2 separate regions of the Homo sapiens genome follow, and region 2 is linked to region 1. The links come from fine-mapping of genetic effects on gene expression. A gene starts in region 1. The other region holds a variant in brackets. All regions are shown on one strand. Distances are between the middles of the regions.

The links.
Region 2: its variant is fine-mapped to the expression of AVIL in whole blood (INTERVAL, PIP above 0.99).

The regions. Positions count from the first base shown.
Region 1 is chr12:57,816,170-57,821,544 of GRCh38, forward strand. AVIL (advillin) reads right to left here and starts at 2,565. Exons shown (of 20, transcript NM_006576.4): 1 at 2,460-2,565. CTDSP2 (CTD small phosphatase 2) reads right to left here. Exons shown (of 8, transcript NM_005730.4): 8 at 3,758-5,375.
Region 2 is chr12:57,593,967-57,599,341 of GRCh38, forward strand. PIP4K2C (phosphatidylinositol-5-phosphate 4-kinase type 2 gamma) reads left to right here. Exons shown (of 10, transcript NM_024779.5): 2 at 59-156; 3 at 1,160-1,256; 4 at 1,922-2,065; 5 at 5,099-5,245. Among named protein-coding and RNA genes, the nearest start is that of PIP4K2C, 5.5 kb to the left of the region's middle. The variant T/TAA (reference allele first, on the strand shown) is at 2,537.

The sequences.
Region 1 (5,375 bases):
CCTCATGGTGCATCCCTGCACCATTTCACAATGATGGGGGCAAGGACTTGTCCAAGTGCACATGGTGAGCCTGGCTGGCCTGGGGATTACCACCCATGAGTTCTGCTTCCCACCTGCCATTGCCCTTAAGAGCTCTGGTAATCGTCATGGTTATTTACCAAAGGGGTGATAAATATGTTAAGCCCTGTATTGATTCACTTTGCATATGTTATCTCTAATTTTCAGAAGGTGAGTTTCTTCATCTTACATTGTGTGAATCTGAGGTTTGCAAAGGCTGAATAACTTGTACAAGATCACACTCTAGAATGAAATCCTTATCTGATCCCCAAACCTGTGCTTCTAGCCACTTTGATGTACTACAACCCTTCCTAAACCAATCTAAGTTCAGTGGCATTTGGAAAGAAAAGCTAGTCAGAAAAAATATTTCCAAACTCAGTTGCCTTCTCTCACTCTCATTCCAATTCTTCCCAAGTTCCCTGCTTGCAAGGCCTTCTCCACAGTCAACTTTGACCTTCTCTTTGGCTTTTGTCCTTTTTTTTTTTTTTTTTTTTTTTTTAGAGTAAACTATTCTTAAACTCAAACAACCCTTCCTTCTTTTGTCACTACTATATTCCCTGTGCTTTCCAGATGCAAGGAAAGTAAAATGGCAGGGCTGGGCCTGGGACAAAGGGTTCTGGGTGCTAGCAGGGTGTGGCCTGGTCTGGCCTGCGGACAGATGGCTTCCTTTTTCCCTCCCACACAGACCCAAGCTTCTGTGTGGAAGCGTGAACCTCAGACACTTAGACGTCTCCAGTTCCTTCAGGATTGAGCAAGTCAGGGTGGGGAGAGGGGGGAAGTGGTAAAGATCTAAGTCTGTGTAGGTCGTGTACCATCTGTATTCAAGGAGCATCTTGGGTAATTAAGCACCTACCCATGTCCAAGGCCACGTAGAGGCTTTATAGAATTAAAATACCTGCTCTCAAGGAGCTTGAAATCTGATAACATGCATAATTAATGTAAAGCTAGATTAATTTCTCCCAAGAGGCAAAGGAAAAAGGATGGGGTTGATGGATTTATGTAAGATTTAAAAATTCACCCAGAAAGGACTGTATGCATTTTTGCTGTTTGGGGACATACTGTTTGTTAAGAGGAACATGTCTGACCATTGTTTTCTTGAACCTTGATGGACAAAGCCAAGTTTGGAGAGCATGCGCCATCTAGTATGGACTTTGGCAAAAAACCATAAAGCTCAAAGCAGACTCGCTTTGTCTACTGCTGTAGCAGGACTAAAGCAAGGCAATGGTGCGGAGCAGCCAGTGTTTGAGAATTTAATTTGATAACTTGTGCTGCCCCACCCTGTGCTGCTCAGAATTGCCAGGAAATATGGTGTTTGGGTTTTCTTCAGACCCTACGTAGCAGTCATTAAAGGCAAAAGCCATGAGCCAACTAGGGGAAGGGGACAAGGGCCACTGAATTCATTCCTTGGAGACAGAGAACTGTCACCCTGGTAAAAGCCAAACCAGCCGGCAGCAATTAGGACTGTGAGCCTCAGAGGCTGAAACCTGTCCCGTTTCCCAGCAGGAATTTAGGAATCAAGGAGCTCCCTGGGCCAGGCACCCCGAATGCGAGAGGATAAGCTCCAGGAAGGGACTTCCTGTCACACTGGAACACACAGAAAACACAGTTCTGACATCAAATCTCCCAAAGCTGGGTCTCTCCTTCTCCCTAAATCCTAATTCAGTATCCTTTGAGAGGACTGCAGAAACCCCTTGGGTGTGGGGCACAGTTTTGAAATGTCAGGTTAAAAGCCAGTGGCCTGTAATTCTCAGAGATGCCCTTTTGGACGGACCCTGAGCAGAGGAAGCTGTTTTTTGTTGTTGTTGTTTTTGAGACAGGGTCTTGCTCTGTCACCCAGGCTGGAGTGCAGTGGTACAATCACGGCTCACTGCAACCGCCACCTCCTGGGCTCAAGTGATCCTTCTGCCTCAGCCTCCTGAGAAGCTGAGACCACAGGTGTGCACCACCATGCTTGGCTTTTTTTTTTTTTTTTTTTTTTTTTTTTTTTGTAGAGACAGGGTCTCACTATGTTGCCCAGGATGGTCACAAGTTACAAACTCCTGGGCTCAAACAATCCTCATGCCCTGGCTTCCCAAAGTGTTGGGATTACAGGTGTAAGCCACCTCTCTGGGCCAGGAAGCTGGTTTTAACTCCTCCTGCCTTGCTCCATACCATCTTTCTCTAGGGATAGGTGAAAGGGGTCTGTCTTTCCCAGCTTTTGAAAATGTGCCCTATATGTTCAGCTGCCTCTAAGGGGTTCTTCTGAACAAGAAGTTTGCAAAACTGGCCAGCCAGACTCCTGGTTCATTTTAAAAGCCTCATCTCAGAAGACAAAGCCAAGGGACTCTCAAGCTCCTCTTCCTTTCATTTCTTCCTCATTCAGGAGGATTAACTGGCATGCCCCCGTAAATCAGAGACCTTACCTTGCCTTCTCGCTCACCAGCCTTCCCAGTTTCCCGGCGCGTAAGCAGCAGCAGTATTGAAGAACCACTCCAAAGCAGGAGGCTCCAGGTCCTGCTGCCTTAGCTTAGTAATGGCCGCAGAGATACTGGGTTATATTTGCTTGTGTTTGCATCTTAACCGCATTTTCCTAGTCCTGGCCAATCAGAGCCAACCTAGCACTGAGCTTGGCTTATTCAAACCAGAGGGAAAGCTTTATCTGTGCCTATTCAAAACAGCAAAACAGAAGAGCAGACTTTTAAAGGCTTCTTTGAACTCCAGCTCCACGCCCTGATCTAATTGATTTTTTAAAAAGTGCACACAGCCCATCAATAATGCAGGAAAGAGGTTGGAAGGATATGAAATTTGCCATATTGTAGATATGGATGCATTATGGTGATGACAGGAGGAAGAGGCTGGAGCTGCCCCATGAGTGCCTGTGATGTCTAGGTTGGCAAGAGCCTCCCTAAGAAGCTTCTGGCATTTCTCAAAGGGAGGGGAAGTCTGGGAGAGGAGCCAGAATTTTATTAGGCCACAGTTTTGCTCGTTGGGGTCTCTACTAGTCATACAGTAAACCAATCAATATTTGAGTGCCTGCTGTTTGCCAGGAACCATGCTGGGCTCTCAGCTTCAGGGTTTCCAGTTTGGAAGAATCAGTGAGGGGCAGAGAAGAATCAAGACTCCATTCCCAGGGCTGGGTGTGGTGGTGGCTCACGCCTGTAATCCCAGCACTTTGGGAGGCTGAGGTGGGTGGATCACAATGTGAGGAGTTTGAAAACAGCCTGGCCAAGATGGTGAAACCCCATCTCTACTAAAAATACAAAAATGAGCCGGGCGTGCTGGCAGGCGCCTGTAATCCCAGCTACTCAGGAGACTGAGGCAGGAGAATCGCTTGAACCTGGGAGGTGGAGGTTGCAGTGAGCTGAGATCATGCCACTGCCTCTAGCCTGGGCAACAGAGCAAGACTCCATTTCAAAAAAAAAAAAAAAAATAATAATCCATTCCCTTAGGGCTTCTGGTTCATGCCCAGAAGTCAATAGGACATCAAGCATATACACGTGCTAAGCACCTGACTGCAATGGGGTTGATCACAGCAGAACTTGTGTAACCTTGAGCGGAAGCCCTGTGTGGCATCTGCAGCTGGCCTCCCGGTGGGTGCAACACCCCACTCAGCCCGGGGGTGCAGCTGCTTCATGATGGAAGGGGTTGCGAGAAGAAAGGCGGTGCTTGCCATGGGCCCAGTGAACACTTAAGGGCCAATGAAGGTTGGTGGCAGCTCACATTCCTGGAAAGGTTTTTTAAACCCACTTTTATTAATTAATTGTAAGTAATACAAATATTCCAAAAATATAAACAGACACTTAATGGCGTCCTGCATTTCAAGTTTTTGAATACAACAAATTTATCAAACCATGAATCTGTAAGCAAGGTAGTCAGAATCCCATAGCCCAGTCACAGTGGGAAGCAGATCCCCTACCCTCCAAATGGCATCTTGAAGGGGGAAAGCGGCACGAAATGGAACATGATAAGCAAAAAAGCTCACGAGGCCCAAAGAGGAGGGTCCGCTCCATGGGCAGGCCCTACAACGTTAAAAGAATGGGGCAGCTGGCCCGACCTCTGGCCTCCTCTTCCCTGGCTGAATGTAAATATTTACCAGCATTTAGAAAAAAGGAGAAAAAAGACAGAACTAAACCCGTTTAGGAAAAAGGGACCGAGGGACAGCAGTGGTTAAGTAATCCACTGAGGACCTGAAGGGGAAAATGGACTTACCTTTCTCATATACTTGGCCTGGCTAGGACACTGGGTGCCAGACAGCCTTCTGAGGGGATTTTCTTTCTAAATGAGGCCTCAGGAACAGGTAGGGGCAGCAGAATAGAATAGCATCCATTTCCCAGAGAAAGACTGCCTTTACATTTCCCATGCTTTTAGCACAAAGCAGCGTCTGGGCCACTGTTACCAGAGGTGAGTTTATACATTTACAAAATGCTTAAAATCTTTGGGAAGCAAGAGGAAGCTAAACAGAAGGTCCCATGTTAACTGAAGGCAAATTCACTCAACCTCTCTAGTAAGGGACCCATGGGCCTACAGAGTGTTCCCTCTACAATGTGCAGAGTGGAAACCCTTACCTGACCCTTTTCCAAACTGGTCCTGTGTCCAAAGCTCCCCCTATGAGAGGGACACGAACATCAGGCTTTTGATTTAGAAGCCCAATCAGAGAGACACACTGTGTCCCTGAAGAGGCACCTTAAAAGAACTGAACCTGGCAGGTAGGCAGATTCCTGGCATGGCTTGAATTGGTGCTGACCAGGCATGGTGGCCTATTGCCTCCCAAAGACCAGTCTCAAGTGGGAGGGGCTGATGGTGGGAAGCCCTAGAAGAGAGTCTGGGATGAAGCGGCCTCCTCCCTGTCTTGCCCTCCAAAATTGAGTCTGGCCTGATTCCTTTGAGGAGCAAATTTTACAATCATCCCTCACCCTAACACACGGTGAAACTGGAAACCCGACAGCAAATAATGACTAGGCTGGCTCTGGTCCACAAGAACAGACCCTGGCTAGGTTTGGCCGAGTAGCTTCTCTGGGGCAAGTGGGAATGGCATTGTTGGGGGGGAGTTGCAGGTGGGCAGGCAGGGTTCTGATGGGAGTGAGGCCTAAAAAGCAGGGGCTTCATGCAGATGCAGCAGGGACACTCCCACCAAGCCATCCTGGGCTTTGGTCATGGGTCCCACGCCAAGCACTTGGACAAGTCTGTTAGGAAAGGGGGTGGCACATGCTCTTCCGCCATCTGGAAAAACATGGAGATCCAAGGGAGGGCGGAAAGGGTCCTTGCAACTCAGTCAGCTTAGAGCCTCTTATTGCTTATTTAGTCAGAAAAGCCTGGCTGGGCCTAGACGGCAAAAGATT
Region 2 (5,375 bases), 220 kb before region 1:
ATGGGTAGCTCTCCACACCCTTCTTCATGGCTTCCCTATTCATGGTTTGGCTTATCAGATCAATGAGCTCAGCCAGGTGCCTCCCCCGGTGATGCTGCTGCCAGATGACTTTAAGGCCAGCTCCAAGATCAAGGTCAACAATCACCTTTTCCACAGGTAAGTGATGATCCTTGCCATTCTCATGTCAACCTTCCCAGAAAGGAGTAATAAATAATTTTAAAAGTTTCAGTGAGTTGAAAATTTAACATCCTTCCCAAATGCAGAAATTAGTTTTGTGCAAGGAAACCATGAGAATAATTTCTGGTGTTCCCTATATCCTTATATGAATCAGTGTTATCTCTCCTCTAGCCTGGCAATTCCATAGAGTAAATATGTACAGATACCATTACCTGCTCTTTCTCTCTTTTTCTGCTTGTGACCTTGGAGATGCCATGAGAACCATTAGCTTCTGACAGGGACTCCTTGAAAGAAAAACTTGAATTCTCTACTAAGCCCTCCTAGGAAAAGAAGATGCCATTCAAAACAGTGGTGTCTGTTGCTGACTTTAGAATGCTTCTGACTTGCTTGAGATTTGGGAAATGCTGCTGTTTGGATGGGTAGTAGATCCTGGCTCTACTATACCACTTACCAACCATGTTACTTAGGCAGGTCACTGAATCACTCTGAGACAGTCTCCTCTTCTATAAAATGGAAATAATATGTTTTTATAGGACCTCACAAGGGCCAGGCGTGGTGGCTCATGCCTGTAATCCCAGCAGTTTGGGAGGCCAAGGCGGGTGGATCACTTGAGGTCAGGAGTTCGAGACCAGCCTGCAAACATGGCAAAACCCTATCTCTACTAAAAATACAAAAAATTAGCCAGGCATGGTGGCGCATGCCTGTAGTCCCAGCTACTTGGGAGGCTGAGGCAGGAGAATTGCTTGAACCCGGGGGATGGAGGTTGTGGTGAGCCGAGATTGCACCACTGCAGTCCAACCTGGCAACAGAGTGAGACTCTGTCTCAAAAAATAATAATAACAAATAAAAATTAAAAAAAAAGGACCTCACAGGGTTTTATGAGAATCAAATGAGGTAATATGTCTGAAGGTACTTTATAAACTACCAAGTGTATGTAAATGTAATATTGTTTGTTTTCTTACTTTGAAAACCTGAATTTCAGGGAAAATCTGCCCAGTCATTTCAAGTTCAAGGAGTATTGTCCCCAGGTCTTCAGGAACCTCCGTGATCGATTTGGCATTGATGACCAAGATTACTTGGTGAGAGTCCATTAAGGGGTGAGGGTAGCCCTTTCTCCCCAGCAACTGAGGAGTACTATTTGGGACAGCCATATTTGGAGAAATGAGAGTCTTGGCAAATATAATTCTTTACCTTTTTGTGATTGCAGCATTTTCAAAAATTTAATGAAAATTATAAACCTTGTCCTTGGGGGAAAAGATGTAGATACATTAAGAATTTTGGCCAGGCGCTGTGGCTCACGCCTGTAATCCCAACACTTTGGGAGGCCGAGGCGGGCAGATCACCTGAGGTCAGGAGTTCGAGACCATCCTGGCCAACATGGCAAAACCCTGTCTCTACTAAAGATATGAAAATTAGCCAGGTGTGGTGGCGCACGTCTAGTCCCCGCTACTTGGGAGGCTGAGGCAGGAGAATCACCTGAACTTGGGAGGCGAAGGTTGCAATGAGCTGAGATCGTACCACTACACTCCAGCCTGGGTGACAGAGCGAGACTCCTTGTCAAAAAAAAAAAAAAAAAAGAATTTTGCATTCAGTTTCCTTCAGTCCACATATGGACACCTGATGAGGAACTGTGCTGAATCTCCTACCCCAGGGATTCATCCACTTTCAGCTGACCATTTTCCTATGACTTGTTTCTGCATATAAAGAGGGAGGAAAAGAGCTCTGGCCTATTCTGTGTCCCCAGGTGTCCCTTACCCGAAACCCCCCCAGCGAAAGTGAAGGCAGTGATGGTCGCTTCCTTATCTCCTACGATCGGACTCTGGTCATCAAAGAAGTATCCAGTGAGGACATTGCTGACATGCATAGCAACCTCTCCAACTATCACCAGGTCAGGCCTCTCTCTAGCCCCATTCTTTCCCTCTCCTCCCTACTCACATATAGCTCAGCTATTGTCAGTAATAGATGCCAACTGGGGAGAAAACTCATTGGAAGAGAGAATCCATAATCATATCCAGCCCTAAATGGGATGAGGGAAGCTATTCTGTCTGATAAGATTTACAGGCTGGGGGCAGTGGCTCACACCTGTAGTCCCAGCACTTTGGGAGGCTGAGGCGGGAGGATCACCTGAGGTCGGGAGTTCGAGACCAGTCTGACCAACATGGAGAAACCCCGTCTCTACTAAAAGTACAAAATTAGCTGGGCATGATGGCTCATGCCTGTAATCCCAGCTGCTCAGGAGGCTAACGCAGGAGAATCACTTGAACCCGGGAAGCGGAGGTTGTAGTGAGCCGAGATCGTGCATTTGCACTTCAGCCTGGGCAACAAGAGCAAAACTCCGCCTAAAAAAAAAAAAAAAGAT[T/TAA]AAAAAAAAAAAGATTTACTTGGAATGTGGAGTTTATGGAATGTTTTGGCAGTAAAAACACTCTTCTTGAACATCTCTACTGAAGAAAAATTTCACCAAAATCAGTGAGCAAGGAATACATCAGAGTCCAAAAGGAGTCTTTGGTTTATGCAACAAATATTGAATACCTCTTATTAGGCCCTATGTTAGGCAGTAGAGTAGGAGGTAAATGAAACATCTGTGGCCCTTACAGATCCCTTGGTCTGATGGCAGTGACCAGTGACCCAGTATTAGCACACCGCAAGATATATACAATAGTAGAAGTCTGTACAGAATATTCTGAAGCTAGTGAAGAGCATCCGAACTCACCTGGGGAAGGAAATGCACCTGGGAGGCTAAAGAGAGTTTTTTAGAGGAGATACTGTAAGAGTTGATCCTTGAAGGACTAGTAGAGGTTAACCATTGGACAGGGTGGAAGAGCATTCTAGGCAAAGGAAAACAGCACTTGTAAGGCACAGAGCCATGAGAGAACTTGGTGTTAGAAAACAGCAAGAAATTCCATTTGGATGGGATGTAGTACTGTGGAAATAGGCAGGAGCCAGATTGTAAAGAGGCTTATAAGCCCCACAAAGAAGTTTGGACTTTATCCTGAAGGTGGTTTTGCAAGGGGCGTGATATATTTGTTATTTAGAAATATTTAGAAAATGTGACAGCGTTTTAGAGAATGGATTGGTGGGAGGGAACACTGGAAGGGTGGATACCAGTTAGGAGGTAATTTTAATAGTCCAGGGTAGAAACAATGAAGGCCTGGGGGAGCGATGGTGGTGGGGATAGAAAGGAAGACCTATGGGAGAACTGAGAGTTAAGACACAGGGGCCTCCAAGTTCCTGGTTAGGGATAACTGGGTGCCTATTCACCAGAAATTAGAAACAGAGGAACAGGTTTTTGGAGGAAGAAAGTTCTGATTTGGACATACTGAATTTGAGGTTTCTGCAATTCATCCAGATGAGGATGTCCAGTAAGTGGTTGGGGTATGTGTACAGAATTCAGGAAAGAGGATTAGACTGGGAGTATAGGTTTGAGAATTATATGTGAGTAAGTGATCATTAAAACCATGGCTATAGATACGATTATTGTAGGGAGGTTGTGTGCAGTGAAATGAAAAGAAGGTTGAGGACAGAACCTAAAGGAACAAGTGAAGAAATGAGCCCATAAAGGAAACTAAGAGTAGATGGACACTTTTAATTATTTATGCCATGCTACATTCCATACGGGATTCGACGACAGAGAGGAGGGGAATCAGGAGGGTGGTATAATAAGAGCTGAGGATGAGGAGACTTTTAAGGAGAGACTGGTCAATAGGATCAAGTGCCACAAAGCTGAAATATGACAATGACTAGAATACTTACTAGATTTGACAACTGAGGGATATGGGGGAGATTTCAGAGGAGAAATGAGGTATAAACCTGATTTCAGTGATTCAACGTGTGAATGAGAGACAGGAAATGGATTTCTTGCTGATTACTTTCCTGAGAAGGTTGGCTGTGAAGAGAAAGAGGCAGCAACACAGAAAGAGAGATGGTAAGCACTGAAGGAGTAATTTTTGTTTTTTAGAGACAGGATCTCACTGTGTTCCCCGGGCTGGTCTCAAACTCCTGGGCTCAAGCGATCCTCCTGCCTCAACCTCCCAAGTAGCTGGGATTACAGGTGTGAGCCTGGCTTAACAGGAGAATTTTTAAAAAAGAATCCAAATTGTAGGCCGGGTGCAGTGGCTCACGCTTGTAATCCTAGCACTTTGGGAGGCCGAGGTGGGCAGATTGCCTGAGTTCAGGAGTTCGAGACCAGCCTGGGTAACACAGTGAAACCCCGCTTCTACTAAAATACAAAAAATTAGCTGAGCGTGGTGGTGTGCGCCTGTACTCCCAGCTACTCGGGAGGCTGAGGCAGGAGAATTGCTTGAACCTGGGAGGAGGCGGGGGTTACAGTGAGCCTAGATTGTGCCACTGCACTTCAGCCTGGGCAACAGAGTGAGACTCCATCTCCAAAAAAAAAAAAAAAAAAAATCCAAATTGTAGGCCATCATGCAGACTTTTTTTTTTTTTTAGGTATAAAAATCTGTATTTATATTACAGTGACAGAATGACACAGCACAGCCCAACCCAATGCAGACATTTTAAATTATGGGAATCTAGCCTATGAAGAAACACTGCTCTAGATAAAATGATTTCATTGATAAGATATAAGTTGTAATCCTGGTTCTGTGCCACTTGCATATAGAAAGGGTCTAAAATAAGGATAATAACACTTAACCTTCCTCATCTCAAAGAATGATAAAGGTGAATTGAGAGATGACACTTAAAAATTAAGAGATGTACAAATGGAAGGAATCAGAGGAAAGGGGGATTCAGAAACGGCATGGATAACCTGGAGTGTTTTGGGGAAGCTTCCACCACTTTTGACTTTGTAATCTCTCTACTTGAAGTCCTCTGCTCTACCCTGGAATGGCAGTGTTTGAACTTCCCTGGGCTGTTTGTGTATCTGCTACTCAGCCTCTCCCCATTCCTTCCCCCTCTTTCACTGTAGTACATTGTGAAGTGCCATGGCAACACGCTTCTGCCCCAGTTCCTGGGGATGTACCGAGTCAGTGTGGACAACGAAGACAGCTACATGCTTGTGATGCGCAATATGTTTAGCCACCGTCTTCCTGTGCACAGGAAGTATGACCTCAAGGTAAGAAGAGGGTAGCTCGGACTTAGAGGGAGGCTCCTGATAGCCTGAGAATGGGGAAGACCCTGGGAGGTCTTTGGATGATTCCTTTTAAGGGAAAGAAGGCTGGGTTTGAGTACTCATCTTAGGGGCT